Regions from separate parts of the Homo sapiens genome. Here region 1 is linked to region 2. The links come from fine-mapping of genetic effects on gene expression. Tissue or cell type: whole blood. Region 2 holds a variant in brackets; the other region holds the start of a gene. All regions are shown on one strand. Distances are between the middles of the regions.

Region 1 (5,000 bases), 260 kb after region 2:
CTGTTTGGGACAAATTTCTGAGATTTAAAATAATTTTTTTTCCTCTCACATCCTCACCAAGCCTTTGCAAGTACTGTTCTCTCCAAATGAAATGCCTTTTCTTTTTCAGAGATGGGGTCTCGCCATGTTGAGCCAGCTCGTCTCAAACTCCTGGGCTCAGGCAATCTACCTGCCTAGGCCTCCCAAAGTGCTAGGATTACAGGTATAAGCCACCAGGCCGAGTAAAAATGCCTTTTCTTACTTGTGCAATCTCCTACTCATCCTTCAACACCCAACTCAAGTATCTCCCCCCTGCAAAGATTTCCCTGACTCTCCCAAGCAATGGCAGTATTCCCATTACACTGTATAAATTTTTTTTTTTTTTTTTGAGAGGGAGTCTCGCTCTGTCGCCCAGGCTGGAGTGCAGTGGCACCATCCCGGCTCACTGCAAGCTCCGCCTCCTGGGTTCATGCCATTCTCCTGCCTCAGCCTCCTAGTAGCTGGCACTACAGGCGCCCGCCACCACACCCGGCTAATTTTTTGTATTTTTAGTAGAGACGGGGTTTCACCATGTTAGCCAGGATGGTCTTGATCTCCTGACCTTGTGATCCGCCGGCCTCCGCCTCCCAAAGTTACATAGTAAGTGCTCAATAAATGTGTTGAATAAACAGTTCACCCTTATATATCCTGGATCAATTTTTGGCCATTTTCCCCAAATGTTACAGATTCCTAAACTGTGCTCAGTGTGAGATTCCAAATTTCATAATGACTGCTTTGAGGTTTTCACCTTGTTTTAATTATCCAAATGTTGAACAAGTCGGCTGGGGGCAGTGACTCACTCCTGTAATCCCAGCACTTTGGGAGGCTGAGACGGGTGGATCACGAGGTCAGGAGTTGGAGACCAGCCTGGCCAATATGGTGAAACTCCGTCATTACTAAAAACACAAAAATTAGCCAGGCATGGTGGTGCGCGCCTGTAGTCACAGCTACTCAGAAGGCTAAGGCAGAAGAATCGCTGGAACCCGAGAGACGGAGGTTGCAGTGAGCCAAGATCATGCCACTGCACTCCAGCCTGGGCGACAGAGCGAGACTCCGTCTCAAAAAAAAAAAAAAAAAGTTGAACAATAAATTGTAATACCTAAAAGTCCAATGAAAACACCTTAAAGGCTTCTCTAGTCACTGAAATGGGTATTCCCCCTTTACAGTCGTAACAAGAGGGATCCCTCTTTCCCTTGACTGTGATCTGATATCCTGAAAGTCTTCACACAGAAGCTATTGTGCACACAAATCCAACTTAAGGTACACCCAAAATAATTCCAATCCTGCTAAGTTACGGGCAGGGACACAAATCATATTTACCCTAGTTTACAAAGCAACTAAAGGATAGCAAAGAAAAAGCTCTCACTAAGCTCAAAACTTTTTCTGGCCGGGCGCAGTGGCTCACACCTGTAATCCGAACACTTTGGGAGATCGAGGTGGGTGAATCATCTGAGGTCAGAAGTTTGAGACCAGCCTGGCCAACATGGCGAAACCCTGTCTCTACTAAAAATACAAAAATTAGCCGGGCGTGGTAGCTCACGTCTGTAATCCCAGCTGCTTGGGGGGCTGACGGGGAAGAATCGCTCGAACCTGGAAGGCGGAGGTTGCAGTGAGCCGAGATCACGCCATTGCACTCCAGCCTGGGCAACGAGAGCGAAACTCCGTCTCAAAAAAACAAAAAACAAAACAAACAAACAAACAAAAAAAAAAAGGCCGGGCGCGGTGGCTCACGCCTTTAATCACAGCACTTTGGGAGGCCGAGGCGGGCGGATCACCTGAGGTTGGGAGTTCGAGACCAGCCTGACCAACATGGAGAAATCCCGTCTCTATCAAAAATATAAAATTAGCTGGGCGTGGTAGCGCAAGGCTGAGGCAGGAGAATCGCTTGAACCCCGGAGGCAGAGGTTGTGGTAAGCCGAGATCGGGCAACTGCACTCCAGACTGGGCGACAACAGCGAAACTCCATCTCAAAATAAATAAATAAATAAATAAATAAATAAAATAAAATAAAAAACTTTCTGGAGAGGAAGAACTGCGGAGGGTCGGATGATCCAGTGACATACATTTGGGTATGGCCCAAGTTTCTGCTTCCCCATTCGCCAGGGGCAGCACGCCTCAGCTTCTCCTTCTCCAGGGGACCAGGTTTCTCTCTACTTTTTCCTTCCCTATACCCTCCTGGGAACAGGTTCCTTTCCTGGGCTCTCGCCGAGTAACCCAAAGAAAACACAGTAGCTTCACTGATTCCGTGTGAAGAGTGGGTTAAAGCCTGTCAGAGCCTGGAGAGGGACAGGACTGGAGCCCTTCCGGGACACCTGAAGACTTCGCACAAACCCGCTTTCCTCTATCCCTGAGATTCTCAGAGGTGCCTTGCCCTACGCCCGCACCCCAGGACCAAGAACAGCAGGAGAGGAAGCTCTCGGGGCAGCTGGCGGGGTCAAAGGTCAGCACCTCGGAAGCCAGAAGGCCCCGCAGGGATGCGGGAGAGGGACGTGACCGGGACCGTGTGGTCCGAGGGACCGGCCGCTGGAAGAGCGAAGCCGTTTCTCTCTAGGCTCGGCCGCCCCCAGGCCCAGCCCTCCCCGGCATACGCAGCTTCAGCAGCCGTCCTCCCTCCCTCTCCCCTCGCGTCCTCGTCGTCCCCGCGGCCAGCGCAGGCCCCGCCCCCAGAACCGCCTCGGGGCCAAGGCCTAGTATGGCAGGACCCGCAGGGTTGGTCAGGTTCGAGGACCGGGCCGGGCCTGGCCGCCGCCGCTTACCGAGCCCGCGGCTCCTCCTCTACCACCCGCGCCGTTCCCGGGCCCGCTCGCTCTCGACGCCACCGACGCTGCCGCTGCTCCGGGCTCACGGGCGCGCTCCCGACCTCCCCGACCCTTCCCGTGTCCCCGCGCCCCGCCGGGTCCTAAAGCCCGGCGCGCAATGGGTTAGTCCACGCCCGCTTCCTGAGACCGGCTCAGACCACGATTCCCAGCAAGCATCGCAAAGACTACAACTCCCGAAAGGCATCGCGAGAAATAAATTCGCAGTGGACTTGTCTATTGAGGGCCTACTGGGTCGCAATAGCAGTTTTCCGAAACATGGCCGACTCTTTGACCTCAGCAATTTTACTTCTAGGAATACATGTATCCTCTAGAAATACTGGCGAAGTTTGGAAAGATATATTTTCCAAATGTGTATTACAACTTTGTACGTGAAAGATTGAAAACAAACTCATTCTTTCAACAAATACGTGTGTGCCTGATAAGTGCAAAGTAGCGTGTAAAGCTCTATTAACTTGGCCAGAAATCTATTTTCTTTTCTTTTCCTTTTTTTTTTTTTTGAGACAGGATCTTGCCCTTGCCCAGGCTGGAGTGCCGCAGTGGCACAATTACAGCTCAGTGCAGCCTCCACCTCCTAGGCTCAAGCAGTCCTCCTGCCTCTGCCTCTGGTAGCTGGGATTACAGGCACGTGCCACCACTCCCTGCCTCTGAGTCTTTGTTTTCTTTTTTTTTTTTTTTTTCGAGATGGTGTCTCACTCTATTGCCCAGGCTGGAGTGCAGTGGTGCGATCTCGGCTCACTGCAACCTCTGCCTCCCGGGTTCAAGAGAGTCTCCTGCCTCAGCCTCCCCAGTAGCTGGGATTACAGGAGTGTACCACCACGCCCGGCTAATTTTTGTATTTTTTAGTAGAGACAAGGTTTCACCATGTTGCCAGGCTGGTCTCAAGCTCCTGGCCTCAGGTGATCCACCCGCCTCTGCCTCCCAAAATGCTGGGATTACAGGCGTGAGCCACCGCACCCAGCCTGAGTCTCTGTTTTTTTATACACAAATGGAAGGTTTAAAAAGATGTGCTATAACAGCAAGAATACTATTAAAAAGAAAAAACAAGTAAAAAAAATAAAATAAGCCAGGCGCGGTGGCTCACACCTGTAATCCCAACACTTTGGAAGGCAAAGGCGGGTGGATCACCTGAGGTCAGGAGTTCGAGACCAGCCTGGCCAACATGGTGAAACCCCATCTCTACTAAAAATACAAAAAATGGCCGGGCGTGTTGGCAGTCCTCTGTAATCCCAGCTACTCGGGAGGCTGAGGCAGGAGAATCGCTTGAACCTGGGAGGCGAAGGTTGCAGTGAGCCAAGATCGCGCCATCGCACTCCAACCTGGGCGACAGAGCGAGACTCCGTCTCAAAACAAAAAAGAAGTGGAGAAGAGTTCTGTGGGCGGCAAGCCACCCAGGTGCCGAGTCAAGAGACCGAAGACACAAGCTGTTCCAGTATAATAAAGAAAATAATTAAAATAAGAATAGCTATATTAGAAATAGAATATAGATGTGATTATATATGAATATTAGTAATCATTAGTTTGTAGCATTACTTTTATTAATAACTTATATTTTACAATTATAATTTAGGAAAACCAGGCCATACAGAGTTAGGAGCTGAAGGGACACGGTGAGAAGTGACCAGAAGGCAAGAGTGTGAGCCCTCTGTCACGCCCAGACAGGGCCACTAGAGGACTCCTTGGTCTAGCGGTAATGCCAGTGCCTAAGAAGGCACCCGTTACTTAGCAGACCTTGGACTAGCCATAGCGCCAGTGCCTGGGAAGGCACCTGTTACTTAGCAGACGGGCCTTTCCCTGAGGAAGTTAGAGAACACTCTGCTTCACCACCTCTTGTTGGAAGCCTGACATCAGCCAGGCCTACCCGCAGCCAACCGGAGGCTTAAACCTCTCCGAGATGCTGTGCTTCAGCGGTCACGCTCCTGGTTCACTTTCCTGTTCCGCTCTGTACCTAGATAGCAGTAGCAGAACTAGTAAAAGTATTAAAGTCTTTGATCTTTCTGAGAAATGCACAGAAGAAATAATGACGTAAGCTGTCCCCTCTCTCTCTGCTTCGGCTACCAAATAGGGAAGGGCCCCCTGTCCGGCAGACACGTGACTTGTGTAACCTTACCTATCATTGGAGATGACTCACACTCCTTACCCTGCCCCCTTGCCTTGTACACAATA
Region 2 (8,325 bases):
CACTGCAACCTCTGCCTCCTGAGTTCAAGCAATTCTCCTGCCTCAGCCTCTCAAGTAGCTGGGATTACAGGCATGCGCCACCACGCCTGGCTAATTTTTGTATTTTTTTAGTAGAGATAGGGTTTCACCATGCTGGTCTCATGCTGGTTTTCACCAGGCTGGTCTCGAACTCCTGATCTCAAGTGATCCACCCACCTCAGCCACCAAGAGCGCTGGGATTACAGGGGTGAGCAACCGCGCCCGAAGCTATACAGAGCCTTTTAACATGAGGTCAAAATACTCTCTTCTACCTGTTATTACAGCAATCCAAAAAAAGTTATCTATTTTCAAATTAACAATCTGAGACTCTACTTTTAGTAGCTAATTAGTTGTATCACAGGGAAACTTTTTTTTTTTTTTTTTAAATATTTAAGAGCTCAAAGGTATACAGGCAGAAAGTGGAAAATCTCACTACTACTTTTTATTCTAAGCTCACGGTGTTTCAGATATCTATTTCACAACCAAGACCATGAAACCCATCATAGTATTTGTGACTACTATGAAAACTATGACATGTCAGTCAGCCTTGCTGCCTGCTGTGTGCTGTATATAAGTCCATTACATATTCCTTATAGCTGGATTGAAAACCTGAAAATGAAATGAAGTCCCTAGAGAAACTTGGCCATGCTGGTGCTTTTTACCAAGTTTGACAATTTAAAAAAAAAAAATCAGTGTTCAAAGGAGACATACAAAAGTCCATTTAATGTAGCAGAGATGTTTAGGGGATTACAATTTCTATCCCCTGGTAAAACCAATACTTGGTAGAAGGATAAAGAAAAAGCCACGTGAAATAATACTGAATAGCACCAGAATAGCCTTACACTAAAGCTCGCATGCGCACAGGGCTGGGAGGATGGCTTCCTCTTGCCAGGCCCTTTAGGTCATTTCAGCAATTGTTCTGTTAAACATAGCATTAATGTTATCAAGACACAGCAAGCAGCAGAAAGCTTGTGGAGTCACATTTCATAGTGTCTCATCTCCAAATCAGATAAAAGTGGTATACAGGGTTCCATCCAGAAAGCATTCAGTCAGAGCAAGTTAAAGTCAGTACTTTCTAACATACTTTTAAGATACTTATGCTGAATTAGCCCAAGGGAGAAAAATTAATGTGCTTGATGTATTTACTAAGACTTGCATCTCAAGTCTTCAATAATGCCTATTTTTGAAAGAAACCTAGGCAACGAATTGAAGAGACTTGGAAATGTGCCAATTCCCTAAATGTTTTTCTCCCTGTGGGATAATTTTTTTTAAAGGGACAATATATTTGAGGAGAAGAGATTATTCCTGGTGCACCTACCTAACCACTGTACAAAAGACTTCACCATAGACATTATACTCTTGATATCCCAAACATAGGAGTACATGTCATAAAGAATTGTCCTGTTGGCACAATTGGAGAGCCGAGTGAACATTCCCATCACTAGTCCACACATCTCTTCAAACTTGGCTGCTCGTGACCGCCATTCTTCAATCTATTGAAGATCAATAAAAAGACTCAAAAAACTGTAAGCTTAACAAAATAATCTGAGACACAGTTACACATTAAGCTGCTTATGTTGTCAGGTACTGGCAATTTATCTTAACCATTAAAGTATCATTTTGTGTCTCCCCAAACTGACAAATATTCCTAAAATAATGACCTTTCCTCATTCTTAACTAGAAGGGCAAACTATGAAACTGAAGGTACCAGATTTAGTAGAGTCCACATCCACTGTAAAGAACATACTTTTTTTTTTTTTTTTTTTTTGAGACAGTTTCCCTCTCGTCACCCAGGCTGGAGTACAATGGCACGATCTCAGCTCACTGCAAACTCCGCCTCCCGGGTTCTTCAAGCGATTCTCCTGCCTCAGCCTCCTGAGTAGCTGGGATTACAGGTGCCCGTCACCATGCCCGGCTAATTTTTGTATTTTTAGTACAGATGGGGTTTCACCATGTTGGCCAGGCTGATCTCAAACTCCTGACCTCAGGTGATCTGCCCGCCTCTGCCTCCCAAAGTTCTGGGACTACAGGCATGAGCCATCATAACCGGCCTAAAGAACATATTCTAAAACATGGTCAATTTTCTGTCAGTTACAGTGTACTCATTTAAGAACCTTTTCCACATTACCAGTATGGGGAACCACCCAGGCTTCAGCAGCAGGTACATTAAACATACTCACTTTTTCAGAGTCTTTTCCTTTGCAATTGACACTGACAACACTACTATTTGCTCGAAGCCATTGAAATTCCCGTAACATCTGTGCTCCTTTGGGTCCATGCTCGTAAGGAAGGTAGAATAGATCAGCAAGTAACTGCAAATCCTCCAGGGTCACTGGTTCCGCAGTGTACAAAGGCTTTTCATTTGGACCTGGCACAAACTGCTCCTTGTTTGTCTGTTCATCAGTTTGCATGGGGGCAATGTCACTAATACAATCTTCTTGCATGGACATCTCTGGGGATTTTGATTCAGCTATGCTCTCTTTATCAGTGTCCATTGGTTTCAATTCCTCTGCCATTTTCGCTTCAACAATTTCACTCAGTATTTGATTGTCATTCTTGTGGTCCGTTTCTTCTTGTTTTTCCACCACCATGTCCATGGGTTCTTCATCAGGCTGTTTCTTTTCTTCTTCCTTGGTCAGAGTAGTAGGCTCACCACTCAAGGCTGCTCCCTGGCTCATAATGGGCTCCTGATAAACTGTTGTTACTACGGTTGTGGCATTTAAAGAGGGTGCTGCAACTAAAGGAGTCCCATCAACTACACTTGCTTTAGCTCCACTGTGTGCAACTTGCCTACCTACAAAAATAAATAAATGTATAAATAAAATGGTCACACAGATAATCAGAATTAGAGATAGAACACATTAGATTCAGAAAGATGCTTTATCATATTTGTTAAGTGGAACCTCAATTTTAGATCCAAATTAATTTGACCTCTAAGAAAAATGAGATTTCTCTATACTACTAGGGATGCAGGAATGGAAGGGCGTTGGGAGGTAAACATGCCAACATCTACTATTACATTCTCTTTTGAAAATTTGTGTCTAAAAACCCTTAAATTACTTCAAAAAATATGTTTTTAAGAGAAATTAGCATTCCATCAAAATAAAAGCTAATATTTAAGACCAAAAGTAAGATTTAAAAATCCTTATTCTCTAGATCCCCCAATTTCATTTAATTTCACTTTGCTTAGTGGGCATAAGGTAAGGCACATGACAGTGTTCTTTTTTTTGAGACAGAGTCTCGCTCTGTCACCCAGGCTGGAGTACAGTGGCTCAATCTTGGCTCACTGCAACCTCTGCCTCCCAGGTTGAGGCGACTGTCCTGCCTCAGCCTCCCAAGTAGGTGGGACGACAGGCGCATGCCACCACGCCCGGCTAATCTTTGTATTTTTAGTAGGGACAAGGTTTCACTATGTTGGCCAGGCTGGTCTCGAACTCCTGACCTCAGGTGATCCGCCTGCCTCGGCCTCCCAAAGTGCTGAGATTACAGGTGTGAGCCACCACACCCGGGAGACAGTGTTCTTTACTTTGTGACTCAACTATGTGATCTAACCCCCTTAACAAAGAATGGCCAAACTCACTGCTGTATTGATGAGGCACACCAAACTCTTGCAACCATTCTGTTAATGCTAGCTTTAGAGCCATCTGTGGACTATAGAGTACATCAGTTTCAATATCTTCATCACTGCCTTCATTTTCTAATTTTATCTGGATGGACACAGTACTATCTTCACTGTCAGCTGCAAAAAATAAAATAAAAAAGCACAAAAATAGTTTTGATTACAAAAGCCTTCTGACAAGTGAGAAGAATAAATGCAACTAGTTTTCACAGTATAACCACAGAAACAAAGAACAGAATGAGAACAAACCTTAAACATAAAAATTCAAATAAAAGCAAGACCCTTCACCAAACCA[C/T]TTCATATAGGATAGTAACCTAAACGTAATGTTAAATGTAAAATCTCAATTGAAATAAGAAATATAAATTTTAGTATCAGTGGAAGAGTCAATCTTAACCGTCTACTGAGTACTAATTGTTGGGAAGTCAAGGTCAAAAGTACCATGCTTTTCGTATGAAGAAAACATTGCATAGCCTTCAGGGCCTTGTAACTTCTTTTTTTTTTTTTTTTTTTTTGAGATGGAGTCTCACCCCATCACCCAGGCTGGAGTGCAGTGGCAGGATCTTGGCTCACTACAACCTCCGCCTCACAGGTTCAAGCAATTCTCCCACCTGAGCCTCCCCAGTAGCTGGGACTACAGGCGCATGCCACCATGCCCAGCTAATTTTTCTATTATTCGTGAAGATGGGGTTTCACCATGTTGGCCAGACTGGTCTCGAACTCGACCTTGTGATCTGCCCACCTGGGCCTCCCAAAGTGCTGAGATTACAAGCGTGAGCCACTACAACCGACTGTAACTTCATTAATAAAGGCGCTGAGGGAAAAAGAAGAGGCCAGGCATGGTGGCTCATGCCTGTAATCTCAGCACTTTGGGAGGCTGAGGCGGGCAAATCACCTGAGGTCTGCAGTTTGAGACTAGCCTGGCCAACATGGTAAAACCCCATCTCTACTAAAAATACAAAAAATTAGCCAGACGTGGTGGCAGGCACCTGTAATCCCAGCTACTCGGGAGGCTGAGGCAGGAGAACTGCTTGAACCCAGGTGTCAAAGGTTGCAGTGAGCTGAGATCGGGCCATTGCACTCCAGCCTGAGCAACAAGAGCAAGACTCCGTCTCAGAAAAAAAAAAAAAAAAGAGATAATCGACAGAGACCCACAAATTAGCACACATAAGGCAACAAAGCTCTGAGCCAGGATAGTGGTAGAGAAAATTAAGTCTGAATTTTTTGATTTTGTACTTAAAAACTCTCTATTCTTAGCTTTCCTTAATATTTCCTACGTATGTCCCAGGTTTGGATAGTGTCTGCCACCCTTAGTATGTTCCTTGCTGTGCCTTAAAAGATGTAGGAGTTAAGTGCCATGTACGCTGACAGCATTTAAATTATATTCCCAATTTGTTTTTTATTGAGGGGAGGAGGATGACAATGACTGAGCCAAACAAAAGGGAGACATTAATTCAATAAACAATTCAAAGCAGAGGTATGGAATTGAGAAACAGATGACAACTATTAATATTACTACATACTATCATGACACTTCAGTAGCCAAAATGGGCCAAAATTCAGGGAACTTCAAAAGTTCAGTGTTCAGGCTGGGCACAGTGGCTCACGCCTGTAATCCCAGAACTCTGGGAGGCAGAGGCAGGCAGATCACCAGGTCAGGAGTTCGAGACCAGCCTGACCAACATGGTGAAACCCTGTCTCTACTAAAACTATAAAAATCAGCCAGATGGGGTGGTGTGCGCCAGTAATCCCAGCTACTCAGGAGGCTGAGGCCAGAGACTCGCTTGAACCAGGGAGGCAGAGGTTGCAATGAGCCAAGATCGCGCCACTGCACTCCAGCCTGGGCAACAGAGCGAGGCTCTGTCTCAAAGAAAAAAAAAAATTTTCAGTGTTCAGTGTTTTTAACCTCCAGCCCACAAACCTTTAACGCCCAGCAAACTCTCCTCATACTTTGATCCAGCTTAAAAGTCTGTGAAATCTCTTAGCAAAAATAATCACTCTCTCCCGTGTTCACACAGCACTTTATAAATTAAACTATTACAACACTTATCACACTATAGTACAATTGCCTATAAGCCTTACCCAACACTAGACTGTTTCTCAAAAGTAGGAATGGCTGGGCGCGATGGCTCACGCCTGTAATCCCAGCACTTTGGGAAGCCCAGGAGGGCGGATCACCTGAGGTCAGGAGTTCAAGACCAGCCTGACATGGAGAAACCCCGTCTCTACTAAAAATACAAAATTAGCCAGGCATGGTGGCGCATGCCTGTAATCCCAGCTACTCGGGAGGCTGAGACAGGAGAATCACTTGAACCTGGGAGGCGGAGGTTGCAGGGAGCTGAGATTGCGCCACTGCACTCCAGCCTGGGCAACAAGAGCAAGACTCCATCTCAAAAAGAAAAAAAAAAAACTACTTTATTCTTTGCCCCCTCAGTGCCCATGAACATGCATCTGCCCCATGACAGATTATTTAAATGTAAATAATTATCAAGCACCTTACTTAGAACTCTATTAATTAGAGATTTTTCATAAATTAAAAATTAGTAAGCCAATGTCTAAAATAAGACTGTATTCCATTCGGCCAGGCAGGGTGGCTCATGCCTGTAATCCCAGCACTCTGGGAGGCCGAGGCAGGTGGATCACCTAAGGTCAGGAGTTCGAGACCAGTCTGGCCAAGATGGTGAAACCCTGTCTCTACTTTAAAAAAAAAAAAAAAAAAAAAAAAAAGCCGGGTGTGCCTGCAATCCCAGCTACTCGGGAGGCTGAGGCTGGAGAATCGCTTGAACCTGGGAAGCAGAGGTTGCAGCGAGCTGAGATTGCGCCACTGCACTCCAGCCTGGGCGATGGAGCAAAACTCCATCTCAAAAAAAAAAAAAAAGAGTATGTTCCATAAAAGATAAATGTAAGCTGAATCTAAATGATCTAAGTGACTCAAGAGTATCTAGTTATCTAAAATATCCTTTTCAATAAAATTGCCTGAAAATACATTTTATCCGAATGATTCTAGAGATAATGGAAACACTTAAAAGACTGTCTCCTCTAGTACTCAGACTTCAAAGACTGAACCATATTTTATTTTTATTTATTTCATAGGATTTTCATCTGTTGTCCAGGCTGGAGTGCATTTCCTGGGATTATAAGCGAGCCACCACGCTGCTTCTGAATCATACTAAAAAAAAAAAAAACAAAAAAAAAAAAACTAAGGCAAAGAGGTTAAGTGACTTGTCCAAAGACACTCAACCTTTCTTCTATCATATACATCTTCATCAACAGAATGAAACAACATACCATAATAAAACCACTTGGTTTTGTTTCCTCCTTAGTAAAACAAAATACGTTTTTAAAAAAATAAATAAAACTGTTTAAGTTGTGATGACAAAGGAATGCATACTTTCCACTGGCTCTAGTTAACCCCAGCTCTCCTCCCAAGGTGAAAGATCAAGTACAGGCTACTTACTCATCACTACATCTTTTCTCACTCCATTCATGTTTGATTTGTACCAGGTGGCAAGGGTGTGGATAGCAACGTAGTTGGCTTCAAATTCACAATTTGGATTAGTGAGGACTCCTTTTAACCGTGGGATGAGTTCTGTGGATCTTCCTTTGTACGGGCCCAGAAACAGTCTCTTCTGATCATAATCATTAGCATGAATGTTATCCCAGATTACTGGAGCTCTCTTAATAATCTTAGAAACCTCTTCGATGGACTCTACTGGAATTTCTTTAGAAACAACTTTGGGACCTAGAAATAACGACAACCGTTCGTTAAAAGAATCATGGTTCTTGGCTAGACGCATTGGCTCATAACTGTAATCCCAGCACTCTGGGAGGCAGAGGTGGGCAGATCATTTGAGCCCAGGAGTTCGGACCAGCCTGGGCAACACAGCGAGACCCTATCTTTTTATTTTAAATTAAAAAATATATTTAAAAAAAAGAATCATGGTTCTTTAAAATATACTGCATATATAACTTTTTATTGTTTTCCTTACGTGTACTTTTTTTTTTTTTTTTTTGAGACAGAGTCTCGCTGTGTCGCCCAGGCTGGAGTACAGTGGTGTGATCTCGGCTCACTGTAAGCTCCGCCTCCTGGATTCACACCATTCTCCTGCTTCAGCCTCCTGAGTAGCTGGGACTACAGGCGCCCTCCACCACGCCTGGCTAATTTTTTGTATTTTTTAGTAGAGATGGGGTTTCACTGTGTTAGCCAGGATGGTCTCGATCTCCTCACCCTGTGATCCGCCTGCCTCGGCCTCCCAAAGTGCTGGGATTACAGGCGTGAGCCACTGCGCCTGGCCCCTTACATGTACATTTTATAACAACGTTTCTTTTTCTGAGACAGGGTCTCCTCTGTTACCCAGGCTGAAGTGCAATGGAGTAATCATGGCTCACTGCAGCCTTGAGCTCCTGAGCTCAAGCAATCCTCTCACCTCAGCCTCCCAAGTAGCTGGGACTACAGGTGTGCCCCACCATGTCACAGTAATTTAAAATTTTTTTGTACAGATAAGGGCTTGCTATGTTGCCCAGGCTAATCTTAAACTCCTGGCCTCAAGCGATCCTCCTACCTCAACTCAAGCCTCCCACAGCACTGGGATTACAGGCACGAACCAATGCACCCAGCCACAATTTTTCTTTTGAAAACACAACATGTCTTTTACTGAGCTTTATTTTTTTCGTTTTATAAAATAGAAGAG

What was found. PIP is the estimated chance that this variant, and not a neighbour inherited with it, causes the effect.
Region 1: ARMH3 starts here. The variant in region 2 is fine-mapped to the expression of ARMH3 in whole blood (TOPMed, PIP above 0.99).

The regions. Positions count from the first base shown.
Region 1 is chr10:102,053,311-102,058,310 of GRCh38, forward strand. ARMH3 (armadillo like helical domain containing 3) reads right to left here and starts at 2,863. Exons shown (of 26, transcript NM_024541.3): 1 at 2,775-2,863. RefSeq lists a silencer at 2,563-2,952.
Region 2 is chr10:101,796,644-101,804,968 of GRCh38, forward strand. It overlaps OGA (O-GlcNAcase), which reads right to left. Exons shown (of 16, transcript NM_012215.5): 7 at 7,092-7,376; 8 at 3,599-3,757; 9 at 2,199-2,812; 10 at 1,337-1,511. Among named protein-coding and RNA genes, the nearest start is that of NPM3, 17 kb to the left of the region's middle. The variant C/T (reference allele first, on the strand shown) is at 3,933.